Regions from separate parts of the Homo sapiens genome. Here region 1 is linked to region 2. Evidence: fine-mapped expression QTL. A gene starts in region 2. The other region holds a variant in brackets. All regions are shown on one strand. Distances are from middle to middle.

Region 1 (11,018 bases), 26 kb after region 2:
TTTTTGTTAAAGTTGTGTGTACGTTGAAAAACTGCACCGGAAAATGTTACAGGTCTTTCTTTCAACTGTTCTGTATATTTTTGAAAAATTTCAGAGAAGAAAACAAATCTGTTATATTTACCCAGATATCTACTGTTTTTGTTATTTATCTTCCTTTTCTGAGATTTCAGGTTTCTCTCTGGTATCATTTCCCTTCTGCCTGAAGAACTTCCTTCAGCACATCTTCTAGAGCAGAACTTCGGGCAACAAATTCTGTTAGTTTTAGTTCATTTGAGAATATCTTAATTTTGCATCATTTTTGAAAGATATTTTCACTGGACGTAGAAATTCTGGTTTGTCTGTTCTTTCAACATTTAAAAACAAACAAACATTATTCCACTGTCTTCTGACCTTTATGGTCTTTGATGAGAGACCCTCAGTCACTCAAATAGGTTTTTCTCTAGATACAATCAACACTTATTTTTGATGTGGCTGATAAGGGCCTTGCATCTGTCTCCTGTTTCTTTGTCAAATTGTTTTGCTACTGCTAAAATATAATCTCCCAACTCTTCTGTTTTTTTTTTTTTTAGTACCTACCAATAGTCATGAAAAATGTTTTGGATAATTATTTTAGGTTATAAAACATGGCTAGGGTGGTAAATCTCTTAAGCATTAAGGTGTACTTGAATTAGGTTCTTTATTTACGTAGTATAAAAGTGGGTTAACTTTTTTGGAGAATGGATGATTCCCCCTGCCATAGCTGTTTAAAATTTAATTTAAATAAAAATGCTTATGACAGTTTTCTTTAACCTAAAGCATCACATAAAACTTGTTTTCAGACAGTAGGTACCTAATAGCCATTCCTTTTAAGACTTGACTAGAATAAATACTACTCACTCCTAGAATAAATTGTGGTCCATCCACTTTACCTGCCCCAGTGCTGTCAGCTTAATTTCTCTTCCTGTTAGCGATCAGGAAAGGGGGATAGCAAAGATGCATATCTGGTGCAATGCAAATGTGTTTGATGTTGTAGACACTGGTGACCTTCAAGGATGTATTTGTGGACTTCACCAGGGAGGAGTGGAAGCTGCTGGACACTGCTCAGCAGATCGTGTACAGAAATGTGATGCTGGAGAACTATAAGAACCTGGTTTCCTTGGGTAAGACTAGCTCTGTTTTTGAAGATTTTGGTTCTCCATTGATCAAAAGGTACAGAGACCCTGAAGCATGTATCACACCAGAGTATAGGCTTGGCGTTCAGAGACCTAATTTCTTTGAGGCATAGAACAGGGTTTTTTTACTCCAGCTTTTGTGGAAAACTTGTTTTAATGTATTGAAGTTTTAAAAATGCCTCTTTAAGGAGTTTTCTGGCTGGGCATGGTGGCTCACGCCTGTAATTCCAGCACTTTGGGAGGCCGAGGTGAGCAGATCACAAGGTCAAGAGATTGAGACCATCCTGACCAACATGGTGAAACCCCGTCTCTACTAAAAATACAAAAATTAGCTGGGCGTGGTGGCGTGCTCCTATAGTCCCAGCTACTTGGGAGGCTGAGGCAGGAGAATCACTTGAACCCCGGAAGTGGAGGTTGCAGTGAGCCAAGATTATGCCACTGCACTCCAGCCTGGCAACAGAGAGAGACTCCATCTCAAAATAAATAAATAAAATAAAATAAGTTTTCCTGCCTCTGTCAACTTTAGAGTCCCTGCCAGTCCTGCAGAGGGTTGGTGGTCAGGTTGAATCTGAGATGTTTCTTCGTGCCTACCTCAGAGCTCCCCTGACTCTTACCCTGTTCTTTGTCTTTCACTGTGAACAGGTTATCAGCTTACTAAGCCAGATGTGATCCTCCGGTTGGAGAAGGGAGAAGAGCCCTGGCTGGTGGAGAGAGAAATTCACCAAGAGACCCATCCTGGTGAGGACCAGTCAAGAGTTGTCATAGGCAGCAGCCCAGATGGGCTGTGAGGTGCCAGAACTTCTAGAGATAGTGGTCACTGGCCCTCCTCACAGGCCCTTCTTCCTGGGAAGACTGAGTTTATCTGGCCCCTGTTTCCCCACTGCCAGTCTTTACATTCCATTTGCATTCAGAGGCAAAGGTTTCTCTGTCTGTTGACGTGCTTGGTTTCAGCGCTTGCACGTGTCGCTCTCCTAATTGTTACCACTCACTCTAGCATCTTGTGCTTTCGTTTGTCATAGAATCACTTCTTGCATTTTTGCCTCTCTTTGTTCTTTCATGTGACCCCTTCCCACAACTCAGTTCTCTGTGCAAGCTCTGGAGTGGGACTCTTATCACCTTCTTTTCTGAGAGTTTGTTTTCTGCCAGGTAGAAAACTGCTGCAGAGAGCTCATAATTCCTGTTGCCTCAACTCTCCTTCCTTTCCAGAATGGCTGCTCACAGAAACACCAGTTTTTCCTACTGTACTTTAGATCTTTTTTTCTTTTCGAGATGGAGTTTCACTCAGTCTCCCAGGCTGGAGTGTAGTGGCGCGATCTAGGCTCACTGCAACCTCCGCCTCCCAGGTTTAAGCGATTCTTCCGCCTTAGCCTCCCAAAGAACCAGGAATTACAGGCATGCACCACCACGCCCAGCTAATTTTTGTATTTTTAGGAGAGATAGGGTTTTACCATGTTGGCTAGGCTGGTCTCGAACTCCTGACCTCAAGTGATCCGCCCACCTCGGCCTTCCAAAGTGCTGGGATTACAGGCGTGAGCCACCATGCCCAGCCTCTATCTAGTTTTGTATTTAATGTTTTAAAAATTTATTTATAGGCATTTCCCTGCATCTCAGACTTTGAGTGTGATGTAAATTAAATCTGAGTCTTACTTGTCCTGTAATTTAGCCTCAAGTTCTTTCCCATGAAGGCTTTTATGATTCCTCATTAAGTATTGGCCTCTTCCTCTTCTGAACTTCCACTTAGTTTAAATCTCTACTTTGAAATATTATCATAAGCTCTTTTTTACTTTTTAGTATTTGCCTTGTAGGTGATTGTATCAAAATGGTATCTCAAAGCAAGTCTTTCTTTGGGACCATGGGAGGAAATATTGTTATATTTTCTTTTTATTACTTACCTTCTTTCTTTCTTTTCTATTTTGTTCATCTAGTAAGCTTTCCTGAATGTCTGTTGACAAGTATCCAAAAATAACAATTATTAACTGGACCCAGCAGTTTATATTTTTATTGAGAATTTATTGTCAAAAGAAATACTCAGACTTCATGGGCTTAAAGGCATGGAGTTTTACAGAATCTACAAGGCTGTTAAATTCATTATCAAATCAAAAAATATAATGAATGATGATTTTTAAAAATCAGATGATTAGTTGATTGATGGGTCCAACAGACTTCGACAATAACTTACTGGCATGGTTGTATTACATAATATGTGGAAGATTTTAGGATATTAATAAAACACCTCATTCTTATGACCAAACTCTCCACTCAGAATTGTCCTCCATAAGTGCTCAGCACCCCCCTTATCATAGATATTCTTCATAGAATCTTCCAGTTGGCATTTGTAGGTTGAAAAACTTCTCCATAAGATTTTCTGATGTTCTGGGTTGGGGAAAGGGAGGAAAGGGTGGTGTATTTCCTATTAAAAATCATCAGGATGGGGAAGAAACTAGGAACTAACTAAGTGGTAAGGGACAGGACTGGTCGGGGTGGGATTGTATAAGGAAGTCATTTAGGGACCAGGCCTGGCACAGGGATCATTTACCAGGTGTATTAGTTTCCTGGGGCTGCGGTAACAAAGAACCAGCAGTTAGGTGGCTCAAAACAACCAAAATGTATCATGTCACAGCTGGAGGCTGTTAAGTCTAAAATGAAGATGTCAGTGGGGCTCTGCTACGCTTCTAGGAGAGGGTCTTTCCTTATCTCTTCCAGGCTCTGCTGGCCCCAGGTGTTCCTTGGCTTGTGGATATATCATT[C/T]CAGTCTTGGTCTCCATGTTCACATGGTCTCTTCCCCTGTGTCTGTGTCTTTTTTATGGAGGACCACCCTCATACTGGATTAGGGGCCCATCCTATTTCTGGTACTACCTCATCATAACTAATTACATCTGGAAAGACTGTATTTCCAAATATGGTCATATTCTGAGATACTGAGGATTAAAACTTCAACATACCTTTTTGTCGGCGGGGGGGATACAGTTTAACCCATAATACCAGGTAAGAGTGGAATGTCACCCCACTTATGTAAGATGAAGTGGTATCATCAGTGTATTTTTTAGGTTTGGGATTATATGTTTTACCTGAAAGACATTGAGAAACAGATAAAGCTCTTATTCAAGAGAAATAATTTGCAGTAATATACACAGGTAGCAGATGGCAGAAATTCTAAGAGCGTATGGGTCAGGCTTCAGATTCTAAGTTCACATCTTGTGGTAGTAGTCCTATCAGTTGTTAAGTCCTTATGTTTCAGAGCGAAGAAATCAAAAAAATGAGAAGAATGATGATGATTATTGTAAATCTTATTGCTTTGACCATAAATGTGCCAGAGACTGTAATAGGCTCATGCTTTATATAATATAATAATCTTAAATAACAAATACTGTCATCCTTAGATTACAGATAAGCAAAATGAATTCTTCAAAGTTTAGCAACTCGTCTAAATTCACCACTAGTCGTAATATAAAACTTAGAACTTGCATCTTGGTAACTTTTGTGCAGTTACTCTTCCACCTTGTCATGTAGCTGCTCTGAGAGGTCTGTTGTGTCACTCATCTGGGTGTTATTCTATAGTGCTTCTGTGATTTGGATAGAAAGCATTGCCTGACGTATGGCTGCATTCATGGTTTAAGAATACTAAATTGGGCCGGACGCACTGGCTCACGCCTATAATCCCAGCACTTTGGGAGGCTAAGGCGGGTGGATCACCTGAAGTCAGGAGTTCAAGACCAGCCTGGCCAACATAGTGAAACCCTGTCTCTGCTAAAAATATTAAAAATTAACCAGGCATGGTGGCAGGTGCCTGTAATCCCAGCTACTTGGGAGGCTGAGGCAGGAGAATCATTTGAACCTGGGAGGCGGAGGTTGCATTGAGCCAAGATTGTGTCATTGCACTCCAGCCTGGACAACAAGAGCGAAACTGTCTCAAAAAAAAAAAAAAGAGAGAGAATACTAAATTGATAGTAATGTGAAGAATGTGTGTCAGGGGAAAGTCCTGACAACAAGTAGACAGGTGAGGAACTTAGACTGTTAATATCTGGATTAGAAAATGAGAGTGCAGTCCTTTTTATGGAATTTCCCTTATTTCTACCCTCACCATTGATACCCTGATCCCATGTGTCATGCTGTGTCCTGTGGCTTCTCCTTACTCCTTTTGCCCTTTGTGAGTACTGTATACCACAATGCATTTATTGTTTACCGCTCCATTCTTCCTTTTCTCATTCTCTATCAAAGTTATAAAGCCATATTTGAAAGCAACTGTGTACATCTTGCATACTTTGTCTCCACATACATCCTAGCATTCTCACCTTAATACTCTGTTTAGTTACACAAACATTTTTCATTTCTTTCAGATTCAGAGACTGCATTTGAAATCAAATCATCAGTTTCCAGCAGGAGCATTTTTAAAGATAAGCAATCCTGTGACATTAAAATGGAAGGAATGGCAAGGAATGATCTCTGGTATTTGTCATTAGAAGAAGTCTGGAAATGTAGAGACCAGTTAGACAAGTATCAGGAAAACCCAGAGAGACATTTGAGGCAAGTGGCATTCACCCAAAAGAAAGTACTTACTCAGGAGAGAGTCTCTGAAAGTGGTAAATATGGGGGAAACTGTCTTCTTCCTGCTCAGCTAGTACTGAGAGAGTATTTCCATAAACGTGACTCACATACTAAAAGTTTAAAACATGATTTAGTTCTTAATGGTCATCAGGACAGTTGTGCAAGTAACAGTAATGAATGTGGTCAAACTTTCTGTCAAAACATTCACCTTATTCAGTTTGCAAGAACTCACACAGGTGATAAATCCTACAAATGCCCTGATAATGACAACTCTCTTACTCATGGTTCATCTCTTGGTATATCAAAGGGCATACATAGAGAGAAACCCTATGAATGTAAGGAATGTGGAAAATTCTTCAGCTGGCGCTCTAATCTTACTAGGCATCAGCTTATTCATACTGGAGAAAAACCCTATGAGTGTAAAGAATGTGGAAAGTCTTTCAGCCGGAGTTCTCACCTCATTGGACATCAAAAGACCCATACTGGTGAGGAACCCTATGAATGTAAAGAATGTGGAAAATCCTTCAGCTGGTTCTCTCACCTTGTTACTCATCAGAGAACTCATACAGGAGACAAACTGTACACATGTAATCAGTGTGGGAAATCTTTTGTTCATAGCTCTAGGCTTATTAGACACCAGAGGACACATACTGGAGAGAAACCCTATGAATGTCCTGAATGTGGGAAATCTTTCAGACAGAGCACACATCTCATTCTGCATCAGAGAACCCATGTGAGAGTGAGGCCCTATGAATGCAATGAATGTGGAAAGTCTTACAGCCAGAGATCTCACCTTGTTGTGCATCATAGAATTCACACTGGACTAAAACCTTTTGAGTGTAAGGATTGTGGAAAATGTTTTAGTCGAAGCTCTCACCTTTATTCACATCAAAGAACCCACACTGGAGAGAAACCATATGAGTGTCATGATTGTGGAAAATCTTTCAGCCAGAGTTCTGCCCTTATTGTGCATCAGAGGATACACACTGGAGAGAAACCATATGAATGCTGTCAGTGTGGGAAAGCCTTCATCCGGAAGAATGACCTCATTAAGCACCAGAGAATTCATGTTGGAGAAGAGACCTATAAATGTAATCAATGTGGCATTATCTTCAGCCAGAACTCTCCATTTATAGTTCATCAAATAGCTCACACTGGAGAGCAGTTCTTAACATGCAATCAATGTGGGACAGCGCTTGTTAATACCTCTAACCTTATTGGATACCAGACAAATCATATTAGAGAAAATGCTTACTAATAAATATGGGAATTTTTCACAAAGAGCAATGACTTTATTTTGCATTGGAGAACTCCTGGAGATAAGCTGTACAAATTGAATCTATGTGGAAATGCTTTCAGTCTTGTTACTATCCTATTGCACATTAGAGAATTGGTCCTGGAAGGGAAAGAAACCACAGATTTTATTTCAGTACACAAATCCATCAGATTTTCTTCTTTTCATGAATTCCTACAGAAGTAATTGGCCTGAGAGCATTCTTGACCAAGTCTTAAATGCTAGAATCTGAGAAGGAATTATTAAATAGGTGAGTTGTTGAGCGAGAACCCCTTCATTTGAAAAGAAATGAGTATGCTACTATAGGGAGAGTTGTTGCTGAGAATTAAGAAATGATACAGTTAATGCAACAAAAGATGGAAAATAATATTTCAGTCAATATGTCATTGTTTTCTTGACTATGTCTCTCTTCTGGGACATTTAGTAGTGTTTGGTATGTTTTATGTGTCTGGTAGAAACCATATTTTGGTTAACAGCAAGAAAAATGCTTATAATGTAGTACAATTAAAAACAACACATCTCCACTACCAGTGCTAACCCATTTTTAAGTACATTTGCATGTGGGCAAGAATTGAAAGTATACAGATAATTGAACAGAATTGATTTGTTAGATAAGGAGATTTTGACTGAGTTTTATAGTCTGTTTAATGTTGCTGTAATAATTATTTTAAGAAACTTTTAAATATTGTAAGAGGATATCTAGTTTCTCTATTCTACCATCAAAGAAGCTTTTGAGTACCACCTGTTAATGAGCTTTCCTATTCTAAATTGTTTTGGGTCACAGAGTTCCACTTTTTCCACTCTTATTAGCACTGCAAAAGCTCCTGAGAATTTAAAAACACAGTAATTCTCTGGATGTTAGGACCTAGGGGAACATTGGGCATTTGAACATATCAGGGAGGGTCCCCATTTTAGTGGGAACAAGTATTTAAACAATATTTAGAGCAAGTGTCCTCATGTGATAAACAGAGCACAGTCCAAAGATACCCTCTTTCTCAAGGTAGTCTTTTATCTTTATAAAGAAAGATTAGTGTTTAAGAGCGTAGACTTGAGCTAGACTACCCAGGTTGAAACCCCACTAGCTGGGTGATCTTGAACATGCTGCTTAGCTTCTCTGTGCCAAACTTACTGATATCCTCATCTGTAAATTAGCGATAATAATAGTACTTACCTGGTAGGATTATGGTGAGTATTAAATGAGTAAATGGAAACAGCTTAGAATAGTGCCTGACATATATTATGTTCTCTGTAGTTACTGGCTGTGATTATTAATAATATTGCCGCACCCTAATATCTGTTATTTAATTGAAATCTGCTTGTGTGCTTATAAGAATTTACTGAGTTCTCACTTCCCTTACAGTCATACATGGTTTTTCCCTTTTGCCTAAATCAGAACTCAACAGCCTGGGAAAATCACTGACAAATAGTGGATATAGGTTTCATTTCTGAGGATCAATAAACAGCTTGTAATGTTGTATACACATTTATTCTGTTTGTACAAAGGTTTTCCATTCTATGGAGAGGATCCCAGTCTTCAGATTCTCTGGTAAGTTAATAACCCACAAAAGATTCAGGAAGAGGATCTATTTTAATTTTCTCTTTCATTCTATAAATCAGTCTGTTGTATATAGGGACTGACCATGATTCTCCATTTTCTGGCATAAATATTAGCTGCTCAATGATTGATTGTTGAATGATAGATGAAGTATTGCTGAAGCCAACCAGAGATCTTGATCTCTCTCTGAGGAAAAAACCTAGAAATGATGGTTAGAATCAGGAGACTTGAGAACTACGAGGAACATGGCAGCCTCTAGCTCATACTTGTCGTTGTACAATTGAGATCAAGTGAATTGGCCCCGGTCTCACATTTTCAGTGAAGTCAGACTCAGAACTAGGTCCTGGGTTTCATGTTTCCTGCTGCTCTTCTCACTGTGTACACACCATGCCCACATACAACATACCTATCAGAAATGGTTTTCATTAAGGGAGTAGAATAGTCACTTAACTGGGGCTCTTAACATTGCTAATAACCTGTGGCTCAATTTCCTCAACTGTATAATGAGGTTACTACTAGTATCTACCTCAAAGCGTTGTCATGTGGATTGAGATGATATGTATGAATCACATAAAAGAGTGCCTGGCACATAGTAGGTGCCATTAATAATATTACTATTGTTAACACCTTAAGGGTCTAACTTGTAATGAAGACAGAAATATGTATGAGGATGATCACTGAAATATTTATGACAGTGCATAATTTGCAAAATAAAAAATGTACACTAGCATAATATTTGTGGCATATCCGTGTAATGGAAGATTATGCAGGCATTAAAATATGTACACAAAAAGTTTGGTAAAGGAAAAATGCTGTCATGTGTTACAAAAGCATGATAAATAATTGTTAATATGGAATAAGCTCAAATATGTCAAAATAAATGTAAAAAATGAGTGTTGCCCAAAACTAAGGAGATTTGTCAAAATATTAACAGTAGTTAGCCTATATATTGGGAAAATTGGTGTTTCCTTTTCTATTTTTACACTTTTCAGTTCTTTCCAAAGCCTCCTGAAATAATATATCTTACTTGTAGAATTAGGAAAACAATCTCCTCAGTGATGGAATTTTTTTTTTCTTCAGAAGCTCATACCAAGGCCCAGTGTGTTAGCTCATGCTTATAATCCCAACAACTTGGGAGGCTGAGGGAGGAGGATTGACTGAGTTCAAGACCAGCCTGGGCAACATTGCGAGACCCTGTCTCTACAGAAAGTTTAAAAATTAGGTGTGGTGGTGCATACCTATAGTCCTAGCTACTTAAAAGGCCCTGAGGCAGGAGGACCACTTGAGACCAGAGTTTGAGGTTGCAGTGAATTATCACAGCACTGCACTCCAGCCTGGGCAACAGGGTGAGACCCTGTCTCCAAAAAAGGGGTGTGAGGGCTCATACATATTAATAAGCTACTAGAGGCCCAGCACGGTGGCTTACGCCTGTAATCCCAGCACTTTGGGAGGCTGAGGCGGGTGGATCACCTGAGGTTGGGAGTTCAAGACCAGCCTGGCCAACATGGTGAAACCCTGTCTCTACTAAAAATACAAAAATTAGCTGGGTGTGGTGACGCACATCTGTAATCCCAGCTACTCGGGAGGCTGAGGCAGGAGAATCTCTTGAACCCGGGAGGCGGAGATTGCAGTGAGCCAGGATCGCACCACTGCACTCTAGCCTGGGTGACAGAGTGAGACTCTTCGTTTTCCGTTAAAAAGAAAAGCTACTAGAACCTTAATAAAGGAATTTAGCACGGTCATAGGATATGAGGTTACAAAAATCAATTTTATTTCTATATGCTAGCAGTGACCAATTAGGAAATGAAATTGGAAATACAGTTCCATTTATAATGATACAAAAAAAGTTAGGTTTTGAAGGAAAGGTGAGGGTTAAAGAGAGAGTGGCTCAACAGAAACACAGGTTTATTGCCAGCAAAAACCTGCAGAGAGGGGACCAGCTTAGTGCCGGAGCCCACTGCTGCTTTCAGGCTGGGGTAATTATAGGTCTGGGTGGAAGGGGTCTGGGTGGTATGGCTTGCTGCCTGGCAGCATTTGATAAAGATGTTCCTGTTGTCAGGTGGTTAGGTAGGATGTTTCTCATGGCCCAAGCCCCTGAAGAATCGCCTTGACCAGGGTCTGTGAAATGGTTGGGGGTTTATAAAATGTTGCAGCTTGGACTAACAGTGACCAATTAGGAAATGAAATTAGAAATATAATCCCATTTACAATGATAGAAAAAATGTGAAATACTTAGATAAATTTAATGAAACATGAAAGACCTGCACAGTGAAAACTATAAAACATTGCTGGAAGAAGTTAAGGAACATATAATAAGAATAAATAACACAAAAGAAACGGAGAAATATACCTTGGTCAAGGATGGGAAAACTCAGTATTGTTAAGATGGCAGTCCTCCCGAAATTAATCTTTATTTTATTTATTTATTTATTTTTTGAGACGGAGTCTCGCTCTGTAACTCAGGCTGGAGTGCA
Region 2 (11,018 bases):
AATAATAGAAAACAAAACAGTATCTTCAGAAACAGATTCTGTGTAGCTAGACATTTAGTACATAACAAAGATGGCACTTTAAATCGGTGGGGGGAAGGATGAACTATTTAACAAATGATATCAAGACAAATGGCTTTCTGTTTGGAAAAAAACACACCCCTCACATTCACAAATTCCAGATGGATTAAAGATATGCATATGTGTTGAACAGGAATTCCAGAAGAGGAGAAAAAAGGGAACAGAAAAGAAGCAATGTGAGATATAATGAATGATTGTTTTTACTCCAAGATGAAAGAAGGATATATAAGTCCTTGATCTGAAAGCCTATATACCATGTGCCATGTAGAATACATTTTAAAAATACATCAGCTACCAGCTACACTGAAGGTAAACTAGAATATCAAGAATAATGTGTAAAACTTTAAAGTTACCGAAGAAAAAAGGCTAATTATCTACAAGGGAATATCAATTATACTGACTACAGACTTCTCAGTTGCAAAGATAGAGGCCAAAAAGGCAATAAAATAATATCTTCAAAGTACTAAAGGAAAACAACAACAACCTAGAATTCAATCGTATGCTAAAGACTGAGAGCAATATAAAAGGCCTTTTATATTGCTCTCAGTCTTTAGCATACGATTGAATTCTAGGTTGTTGTTGTTTTATATGGGTGTTCTATATGGGTGTGTGTGTTAACCACTCAAGATAGTTCCTGAAGGAACTACTAAAAGGATGTAAGCTGAACTCAGAAGAAAGCAGAGGGGTGTAGGAGTAAAACAAAAGCAAAGAAGGAATTCAGAGGAAACAATGTAAGAAACAGAAAACAACAAACTTCAAAGCAACAACAGCATATTCAAAAGAGCACACAGCAAGGGATATTGGAATTAAAACAATATGGAGACATAATTTTTCTATGGAAAAACCATACAGACTTCAAATTGTATAAACATTATCTGGACCATGAGTCAAAGAAATGAATTTTAAAAATTCACGAGAAAACGGAAAAATCTGAACACTGCCTATACATTAGTTACTTATTTTTTAGAGACAGGGTGTCACTATATTGGCCAGGCTAACCTTGAAATCCTGGCTTAAGTGATCCTCCACCTTAGCCTCTGGCCTCCTGAATGGCTGGGACTACAGGCATACCCTCCCCACCCCATCCCTTGGCTTTTGCCTATAAATTTGATATAAAGGAATTACAAATTTTGCAGGTGTGAGACTATCCTACTTAAAAAGGAGTACTTATCATTCAGAGATGCATTCTGAAATATTTGCAAATAATATATAATGTCCAAGATTTGCTTCAAAATAGAACAATGGGGCCTTTTTCACAAGATGGCACTGATGGCGAAGAAGGAAACTCCTGTCTCTCCTATGGCTAAAGCCAAAGCAAAGGCTTTGAAGGTCAAAAAGGCAGTGGTGAAAGGTATTCACAGCAACAAAAAAAAAGAAGATCCGCATGTCACCCATCTTCTAGCAGCCCAAGACACTGAGGCTCTGGAGGCAGCCCACGTATCTTCAGAAGAGCACCCTCAGGAGAAACAAGATTGACCACCATGCTATCATCAAATTCCTACTGAGTCTGCCATGAAGAGGATAGAAGGTAACACACTTGTGCTCACTGTGGATCTTAAAGCCAACAAGCACCAGGTCAACATGCCCTCCTCACAGGCTTGTGAAGAAGCTCTATGACACTGATGTGGCCAAGGTCAACACCTTGATCAGGCCTGATGGAGAGAAGAAGGCATATGTTTGACTGGCTCCTGGTTCCCATGCTCTGGATGTTGCCAACAAAACTGAATAATCTAAACTGAGTCCAGCTGGCTAATTCTAAATATGTACATCTTCTCATCAGGAAAAAATAAAATAGGATGATTGGTACACTGTACTACTATATTTGTGTATGTGTTTGAAAACTTCATAATTTGAAAAATAATCAGAGAGATATTTCCTCTATGAAATAAGAATACAACTCTATGGATTTTTTTTAATTTCCCAGGAAGTTAAAAATTATAATTTAAAAACTCCCCAAAAAGGTACAAGGGTTAAAAGATAAACTTAGGGCCGGGCACGGAGGCTCATGCCTGAAATCCCAGTACTGAGGCGGGTGGATCATGAGGTCAGGAGATCGAGACCATCCTGGCTACTGTGAAACCCCATCTCTACTAAAAATATAAAAAATTAGCCGGGCGTGGTGGTGGGTGCCTGTAGTCCCAGCTACACGGGAGTGTGAGGCAGGAGAATGGCATGAACCTGGAAGGTGGAGCTTGCAGTGAGCCGAGGTCGTACCACTGCACTCCAGCCTGGGCAACAAAGCGAGACTCCGTCTCAAAAAAAAAAAAAAAAAAAAAGATAAACTTAAGGAACTTTTCTAGAAAGCTGATCTTGGCTGAACACAGTGGCTTACGCCTGTAATCCAGCACTTTGGGAGCCGAGGTAGGCGAATCACTTCAGGTCAGAATTCTAAGACCAGCCTGGCCAACACAGTGAAACCCCGTCTCAAATAAAAATACAAAAAAAAAAAAAAGCTAGATGTGTTGGTGCACACCTGTAATCCCAGCTACTCGGGAGGCTGAAGCAGGAGAAATGCTTGAACCCAAGAGGTGGAGGCTGCAGTGAGCCGAGATGTGCCACTGCACTCCAGCCTGGGCAACACAGTGAGACTCTGTTTCAATAAATAAATGAATAAATAAGTAAAGCTGATCTAAAAGAAAAAGTAAGAATAAATAAAAAAAGACCACTATATGAGCAATTTAAGGTACCCCAGATTACTCAGAGTTCCAGAAAGAAAAAACAAGAGGAAGAAACAAACAAGTACAGGAAAACTTTTTTTTTTTTTTTTTTTTTTTGAGACGGAGTCGCCCAAGCTGGAGTGCAGTGGCACAATCTCGGCTCACTGAAACCTCTGCCTCCCGGGTTTAAGCAATTCTCTGCCTCAGCCTCCGAAGTAGCTGGGATTACAGGCGCCGGCCACCACGCCCGGCTAATTTTCTTATTTTTAGTAGTAGAGATGGGGTTTCACCATCTTGGCCAGCCTGGTCTTGAACTCCTGACCTCATGATCCACCCACCTCGGCCTCCCAAAATGTTGGGATTACAGGCGTGAGCCACGGTGCCCGGCCAGAAACTTCTTATTCCTTAAAAAAACACAGTATCTAAGAACTGATCCATCAAAGCAAGTAATTTCTTTAAATAATTAGAACACACATCATCATGAAATTTTTGAATACCAAAGAGCTCCAAGAGATGATAAACAGATTACACATAAAAGAACAAGGTATGAAATAGGACTTCTCAACAGTAACAGTAACACTGCTCCATTTCCTATCTAGCTTCACTGGCTTTCAAAATTCTAATGGAAAGTAATTTCCTATTGAGATGTGTATACTCGGTGAAAACACCACACAAATGTGAGGAAAAAGTAATTTCTAATCATTTCTACAACTTTAATATATGTAGATCATATGGACCCTTTCTTCAAGGCAGTTAAGATTACAATCCACCAAACAGGAATAGAAGTGCTTTACAGGAAACAGGAGATTTAACACAGAGGTGAGATGAGGAAATTGATGAGGGCAAAAGGGAAGCCCAGTGGTATGCCAGCGTGCTGCATGCCTACAGAGTAACTGATCAATCTACATTGCAGGGGGATGTCCAGGAAAGGAGAAAAGTGATAAGACTGTATGACAGATTAGCCCTTGAGGAAAATGGAACCAAAAGACATTTTACATAGATTTAAGAAAAACTAAGCAAATGAATAAAAAAGGCAGTCATTAAAAACAAGAAAGGTAAACCTTGCACAAGAAAGAAACATATTATGGCTCAGTACTAAAGAGTAGTCATCAAATGAAAACACTGAACATATTTATCCAAAATTTGTGGGAGAACTACATTATAATATTTGTAAAATAATTACATTGTGATTTAAGGATGTAGAAAGAAGGCAGCCAAAGTTCTTATTTAACATGATAAAAATTTTAAAATAATGTCACAAATCGGTGAATAAAAAAATACTGAGAGGAGTTCGAAGCCAGAACTGCTTAAATATTTCCAAGTGGTTGCCACTGGGAAGAGATGGGGTTAAGGTGTTTCCTGTTTTTATTATGAGTCTTTTAACATATTCAGCTCTTAAAAATGTACACACACATTTCTTGGAGCACAAATAAAGAGTAGTAAATTAATTACCCAGTCAAATCAAGAAGCAGATGGCCAGGCACGGTGGCTCACGCCTGTAATCCTAGCACTTTGGGAGGCCAAGGCGGGCGGATTGCCTGAGCTGAAGAGTTCGAGACCAGCCTGGGCAACACCGTGAAACCCCGTCTCTACTAAAAAATACAAAAAATTAACCGGGCATGGCAGTGTGCGCCTGTGATCCCAGCTATTCCAGAGGCTGAGGCAGGAGAATGGCTTGAACCCGGGATGTGGAAGTTGCAGTGAGCAGAGATCCTGCCATTGCATTCCCGCCTGGGCGAGAGAGAGAGACTCTGTCTCAAAAACAAACAAACAAACAAAAACAAAAATTAGCTGGATTAGCCGGGCGTGGTGGGGCCTGAGGCAGGAGAATCGCTTGAATCCGGGTGGTAGAGGCTACAGTGAGCCGAGATCACGCCACTGCACTCCAGCCTGGAGACAGAGTGAAACTCTGTCTCGAAAAAAAAAAAAAAGTAGAAAAACAGAGACAAAGTAAAAGAAAAATTTAAAAATTAAGAGCAAAACTTACTGTAATAGGACCCCCCTCCCCAAAAAAGACCAAAACAAAACAACAAAAAAACCAAAACCAAATCTACATTTTTGAAAAGACTATGTACACATATACCTTATAGGAGTAATCAAGAAAAAAAGGCCTAGATAATTAGGTTCAAAAAAGAAAAAAATAACAATTACAGCAGTAAAATATTAAAAAGTGGTGATTTTAAAAATCACCATAGAAATTACTTACAGTGATAAAATAGCATGGGCAATTTTATGCCAATAAATTTGAAAAATTAGATTAAAAACAATTATCTAGGAAAGGTATCTAAAACAGAATACGAACTAAAAAACCTAATCAATGAGACTTTTTAAAAAATTGAGTCAGGGCCGGGTGCGGTGGCTCACGCTTGTAATCTCAGCGCTTTGGGAGGCCGAGGCAGGCTGATCACCTGAGGTCGGGAGTTCCAGACCAGCCTGACCAACATGGAGAAACCCCATCTCCACTAAAAATACAGAATTAGCTGGGCGTGGTGGCTCATGTCTGTAATCCCGGCAACTCACAAGACTGAGGCAGAAGAATCACTTGAACCCGGGAGGCGGAGGTTGCTGTGAGCCAAGATGGCGCCATTGCACTCCAGCCTGGGCAACAAAGAGCGAAACTCTGTCTCAAAAAAAAAAAAAAAAAAAATTGAGTCAGAAGTTAAATGCGTACTAAATATTTTAAGACCAAATAGCACCAAACTTTTGGAGGCGGGCGGGGGGCGGTGAGGGGTGGTGACCTGTTTTACAGAATAGAAGAGAGACTGTGCTGTCCAAATTATTCATGAAGCTTGTAAAATCTTGTTAGTATAACGGGCAAGGATAGTACACAAAAAGATTAAAACACAATCTTGTGAGCATAGGTGAAGTCAAAGGGAAACAGCCAATTGAATACACCAGAGTATTAAAGAAATAAAACCATATCGCATTCAACCACAGTATAAGGCAATAGGTGAAAAAAACGATGGCTGTGATTCAACTCATTACTAGGTTTAGAGATTCAAGAGAGGCTGCTGGACAGAGGCGTGCACCCTTTAGCCCTCCCGTGTTGCTTAGAGAAGGAGGCAAACGCGCATCCCCGGCCCCCCAGCGCTCCCTGCGTGGCACCCGCAGCCAGCCCGGGACCCCTCCGCCCCGCGCGCCCCTGGTCCCCACTCGCTCCCCGCGCTCCACTCGCACCCGGTAAGTAGCCCCTCCTCCCTCAAGGGCCTCTCCCACCGCCGCCTCCCGGGCAGGCTCCCTGCTGCTCAGACTCCCGTGAGGCGATCCCTGCACGCAGGAGAACTCAGCGGGCCAGGCTGATCCCACGAGGGACTTGTCCCGGGTGAACGAGCCACAGGCCCGCATGCTCACCCGTCCTCAGTGCCTGCCTCCAGGCGTCCGCGGTCCCGCCCGAGGGGGACGCGAGGCCGAACTACGTTTCCCAGGAGCTCCTGCGCCGCCCCGCAGAGGGGCCTGGTCTGTGCGTCACGGACGCGCTCTGGGCCGAAGGCCCGCAGGGTCCGGCACAGAGTGGCGGCTGCGGCGCCGGCGACGAATCGCCGGCTCTAGGGTCCCGGGGCGCGCGGCTGACGGGCTGGGGGCGGAGCGTGGCCTGAACGCCAGGCTGGGGCGCGTGCGTAACGGTGTGTGTTGTGGGTGCGTGTGCGTGCGTTCGCAGCAGGGGCGGGCGTAGGACCAATGGGGGCGGGGCGCGTGCGCGTGCGTGACGTCAGGCCACGGGGAGGTGGCGCCGCCGTGCCGAGCCGGCCTCAGACTCACCTCTGACGCCGCTCTTCGCGCTCCGCTGGTGAATGGAGTCGCGTTCTCTGTTTTGCTGTTGCTGCTGCCTTTGTGACGGGATCGCTTTCTCCCATCGAACCTTCTAGTTGCTTATTGCAGGTATATACGAAAGTGCTGAATTTTGTGTTTGCATCGTCATCAGGCGCGTGTTGAGCCCTTTAGTAATGTAGCAGTGTATTAGCTTCGTATTTCTAGGTAGACGGTAATTTCGTCAATGAAAAAATTTAACGGTGATCGTCACCCCTTGCCTCAGTCACTTTCTGTCCCTCGCGCGGCCCCGGCGTTCACGGCGGACGTTCTTGTTCTGTGGAGAATAACGGCTGCACCTGGAGATTGACGCAGAGTGGGCGGCGGTGGTGGTAAGTTTGAACCAGATATTTTCAGTAATACAAAATAAGGTTTCTTCTAGTCTAACTTCCATTTTTCCCCCCAGCTGGGATAGATGTTTAAAATTTTGCATATGGCCTTTCTAGTATTTGTTGAAATAGTGACGCCGATTCGTGTGTGGTCTTTTAAAAACAAATCCTGCATCTCTAGCTCTTAGCTTCCTCATCTTTGTTTTGTTTTTTAATCAGATAGATTAACTGAAGGCGTGTTTGTGTGGTTAATCTATTTTTTTTATTTTCAGAGACAGATCATAAGTTTAATTACTATATTTTTATTTTCCCTTGACACTAGATATATATACGCCATCTAACACATAATATGAGTGTCAAAGATAAGGTTAACATCAAGATTTCGTACGTAGATCCCACCCAAAGTGTATGCAGAAGGTGAACAATTTCAATTCCAGCTATACATTAATTGCAGAAAGATACTGTTAATTAAAAAAAAAAAAGTAAAAGGGAAGGCAGGATGTCACCCAGAATGCCAGCCAACAAGTGTTATTAGGTTAGAAATGACTGCAGTTAGGTCTCCGAGAACTGGATAGCACAAATCCTCCCTACCCTTTTGAAAATTACCTCCACACTAACTTTTCTCTTGTGACATAACTAATCTCTTCTGTTTTACTAAAATTGTCCCCCATCTTCCAAAGCCTCTTGGATGGTAAGTTGCACACGCTCCTGCCTCTTTTTGAAAGTTACATTTGTTTTTTGATTACTTCTCTCAGCATGCATTTCTTTAGCTCTTAGTATATGCTAGTCACAAGGGCAGAGATTTGAGATACACATCATAAATTAAATGAGAATTTCTGCTTATCAGTATTTTATATAAGCACTGTCTGGAAATTCTACTTAGGACAATATTTAAGTAGATATGAGGCTTACCTTCTGGAAAAGAGATTACAAAATTATCCTTGTTAATTAATTAACTAATTAAGTCCCCAAAATGAGAAGAGATTCAATTACTATCAATAATTTGTAGTAAAGTGACTGAAAAGGAAATATATAAGCTAATAGATTGATTGCCGTCCTCAACAAGTTAGCACATACTTTTATTTTTAAAAAGTCTTCACAATAGGAAGAAAATAATTTTAGCTAGAAATATATGTGAACTATATGAGAAAAACTTCAAAACCTTACTAGGCAATTCTTACTAGAAGAATAAAGGATGAGTAAGAATAAAAACAGTTCTGTTTATAGATTATATTCAATTGTCAAGAAAATCTGAGAATTTTTTTTTTTTTTTTTGAGATAGAGTTTTGTTCTTGTTGCCCATGCTGGAGTGCAATGGCTCGATCTTGGCTCACTGCAACCTCTGCCTCCTGGGTTCAAGCAATTCTCCTGCCTCAACCTCCCTAGTAGCTGGGATTACAGGCGCCAGCCACCATGCCCAGCTAATTAACATATGCCAGTCACAAGGGCAGAGATTTGAGATACACATCTTAAATTAACAAGAGCAACAAGAGCGAAACTCCGTCTCAAAAAAAAAGTATTTTAAGGAAAAAGAAATTTCTTATTGTTAATATCTCTGTTGTGCCTACAAGAGACTCTTTTACTTTCATCAGCAGTACTCTTTCTAGCATGTCTCATGTCAGCCAGGGCTTTTAATTCTTCTGGCTATGAAGCAAGGTTGGGACAAGATATGATATAGGCCACCTTTGTCTGTGTATGTGCCTCTTTGACTCGTAATGAACATCCAAGAGCATTATTTTTTCCTCTTTCCACACAATATCTCCTTGCTGACTGATCCTAACATTTCCTGTTCAAAATTTTATTATGAAGAATTTTGAGCATACAGCTAAATTAAAAGAAGTTTACAGTGAATACTTATAAACCTTCCCATCTAGACTCTACCATTAATATTTTACTGTACCTAATTTTAACACATACCCATCTGTCCCTCTTTTTATCCATCAGTTCATTGTATTTTTAAATTTTTTTCAAAGTAAATTGACATGGGTACGTATTCCTTAAAAATTTCAGAATACGTATGTATTATTAATTAGAATTCTATATTTGTTTAGATTTTTCTTTAGATGTAAAATTTACATAACATGAAAAGCGCAAATCTTAAGTGTACATTTGCTGAGTTTTGACAGATGCAGGATCTTTGCCTTTTGTATCTTTAAGTATATCTTTGCCATGTCTATTGGTTACCGAGTTTTAACTTTGTGGCTGCTGGGTCCTTTTTGCTGATCATACCTTGCCCTTTGCTGAAGCAAATACTGGTAAACCTATTCAGAACTTGAAGAGACCCTGTTCTCTTTATTAATGAACATGTACTCCATGTCCCCAAGTGAAATGCGGTTCCTGACGAGGTTGTACCTGTCAATGTGAGTGCTGGTTAAGTATAGTCACATGTCAGAGTGAATGAATATGAAGTGCTAAGCACTTTGCTAGCCTCTTCCCAGGATTTAGAATGAGATTGTCCTAATTCTTAAGTGGTTCACTATCTCATAAGGGAGACAGACAAATCTTGGTACCGTAAGGCAGCGTTGAAGTGCTGGAATAGGGCATGGGCAGAGTCCTTCATGTTTACGGATGATAGAACCACTGATCCTCTCTGAGATAGTGGGAAGGCGTCACAGCATAGATGGCATTAAAGTGATCCTTAGAGAATATGGGGCAAGTGTAGTGGGAGTTAAGTTGAAAAGGGTCCAGAACGTTGTTGTGAAACTTGTACGCTAAGTGTTTGATTGGAGCTGTGCTTTGGAACTGCGTGTGCCTCAAATAGTAACTTTCATAGCCTTCTTGCCGATACTTGGAGCTTCTTTTCAGCCCATCTCTGCCCTTGTGGCAGCCAAAATAATGGCTCCCCAGAGATATCCCCAGCACCTGGGAATATTTTACCTTATACTGCAAAATAAAATTTGCAGTTGTGATTCAATGAAGGATCTCAAGATGGGGAGAGATTATCCTGGATTATTTCAGTGGGCTTAGTGTAATAACAGGGGTCCTTAAAAGTAAAAGAGCTGGGTGGCCGGGCACGGTGGCTCACGCCTGTAATCCCAGCACTTTGGGAGGCCAAGGTGGGGAGATCACCTGAGGTCAGGAGTTCGAGACCAGCCTGGCCAACTTGGTGAAACCCTGTCGCTACTAAAAATACAAAAAAAAAAAAAAAAAAATTAGCTGAGTGTGGTGGTGGGCGCCTGTAATCCCAGCTATATGGGAGGCTGTGGCAGGAGAATCACTTGAACCCAAGAGGCGGCGGTTGCAATGAGCCGAGATTGCTTCACTGCACTCCAGCCTGGGCAACAGAGCAAGACTCCCTCTCAAAAAAAAAAAGTAAAAGGGGGATAAGAAGGTTAGCAATCAGGGAAATATAACCATGAAAGAAAGGCACAGAGAAATGTATCATTGCTGGCCTTGCAGGTGGAGGAAGGGTCAGGAGCCAAGGAGTGTAGATGGTCCTAGACACTGGACGGGGGCAAGGAAATAGATTCTTCTCTAGAGCCTCCAGAAGGAACACAGCTCTGCCAACACCTTAATTTTAGCCCTCCGAAACCTGTATCAGACTTCTGACCTCCAGAATTGTTATGTAACAAATGTGTGTTGTTGAAAACCACAAAGTTTTGATAATTGGCAGCAATGGAAAACTAATATAGCCCTCTGTCCTTAAGAGTTTACCAAAATAAAAATAGTCTCCCTTTCTCTGGCACTATGTTTTGACTTTGCCTCAGAAGAAAAATGGAGTGATTATAAATATTTTTTGTGACCACTCTGGTAGAAAATATAGACTTTATTGTAACATTTATGTTCACAAATAGAATTATATAGTCTTCTAGGAGATTTTACCATTTGGAGGTGGGAAGAAAAATCTCTTTGCAAATGTAAAGCTCACATTGTGGAATGGCTGTTGCTGTGCTTTCTAACTCCTAACATTGGACCTTTTCTCATCGTTGTTCCAGTTTTTCCTTCCCCAGGAAGTTTTGCAGATTTCCCCAGCCACATTTCCTTTCTCCATTCTCTTCATGTCTGTGGTACTAGACTTTTAACATCCTTCCATGGTTACAATCTGCTTGAGGGAGGGAAATTATTCTCATAGTTGTGTTCCTAACATCTTAAAAAGAGCTTCTCAGGTAGGGGACGCTCAGTCACTCTTGATAGCTACCTGAAATGC

The links.
Region 1: its variant is fine-mapped to the expression of ZNF10 in thyroid (GTEx, PIP 0.95).

What each region holds. Positions count from the first base shown.
Region 1 is chr12:133,150,016-133,161,033 of GRCh38, forward strand. It overlaps ZNF10 (zinc finger protein 10), which reads left to right. Exons shown (of 5, transcript NM_015394.5): 3 at 1,013-1,139; 4 at 1,794-1,889; 5 at 5,488-9,450. The coding sequence ends at 6,953. Among named protein-coding and RNA genes, the nearest start is that of ZNF10, 25 kb to the left of the region's middle. RefSeq lists enhancers at 5,194-6,393, 9,860-10,029. The variant C/T (reference allele first, on the strand shown) is at 3,899.
Region 2 is chr12:133,124,141-133,135,158 of GRCh38, forward strand. It overlaps ZNF10 (zinc finger protein 10), which reads left to right and starts at 6,487. Exons shown (of 5, transcript NM_015394.5): 1 at 6,487-6,614. ZNF891 (zinc finger protein 891) reads right to left here and starts at 6,134. Exons shown (of 2, transcript NM_001277291.2): 1 at 6,087-6,134. It also overlaps the pseudogene RPL23AP67. RefSeq lists silencers at 5,750-5,929, 6,300-6,539 and enhancers at 6,590-6,869, 7,952-8,121.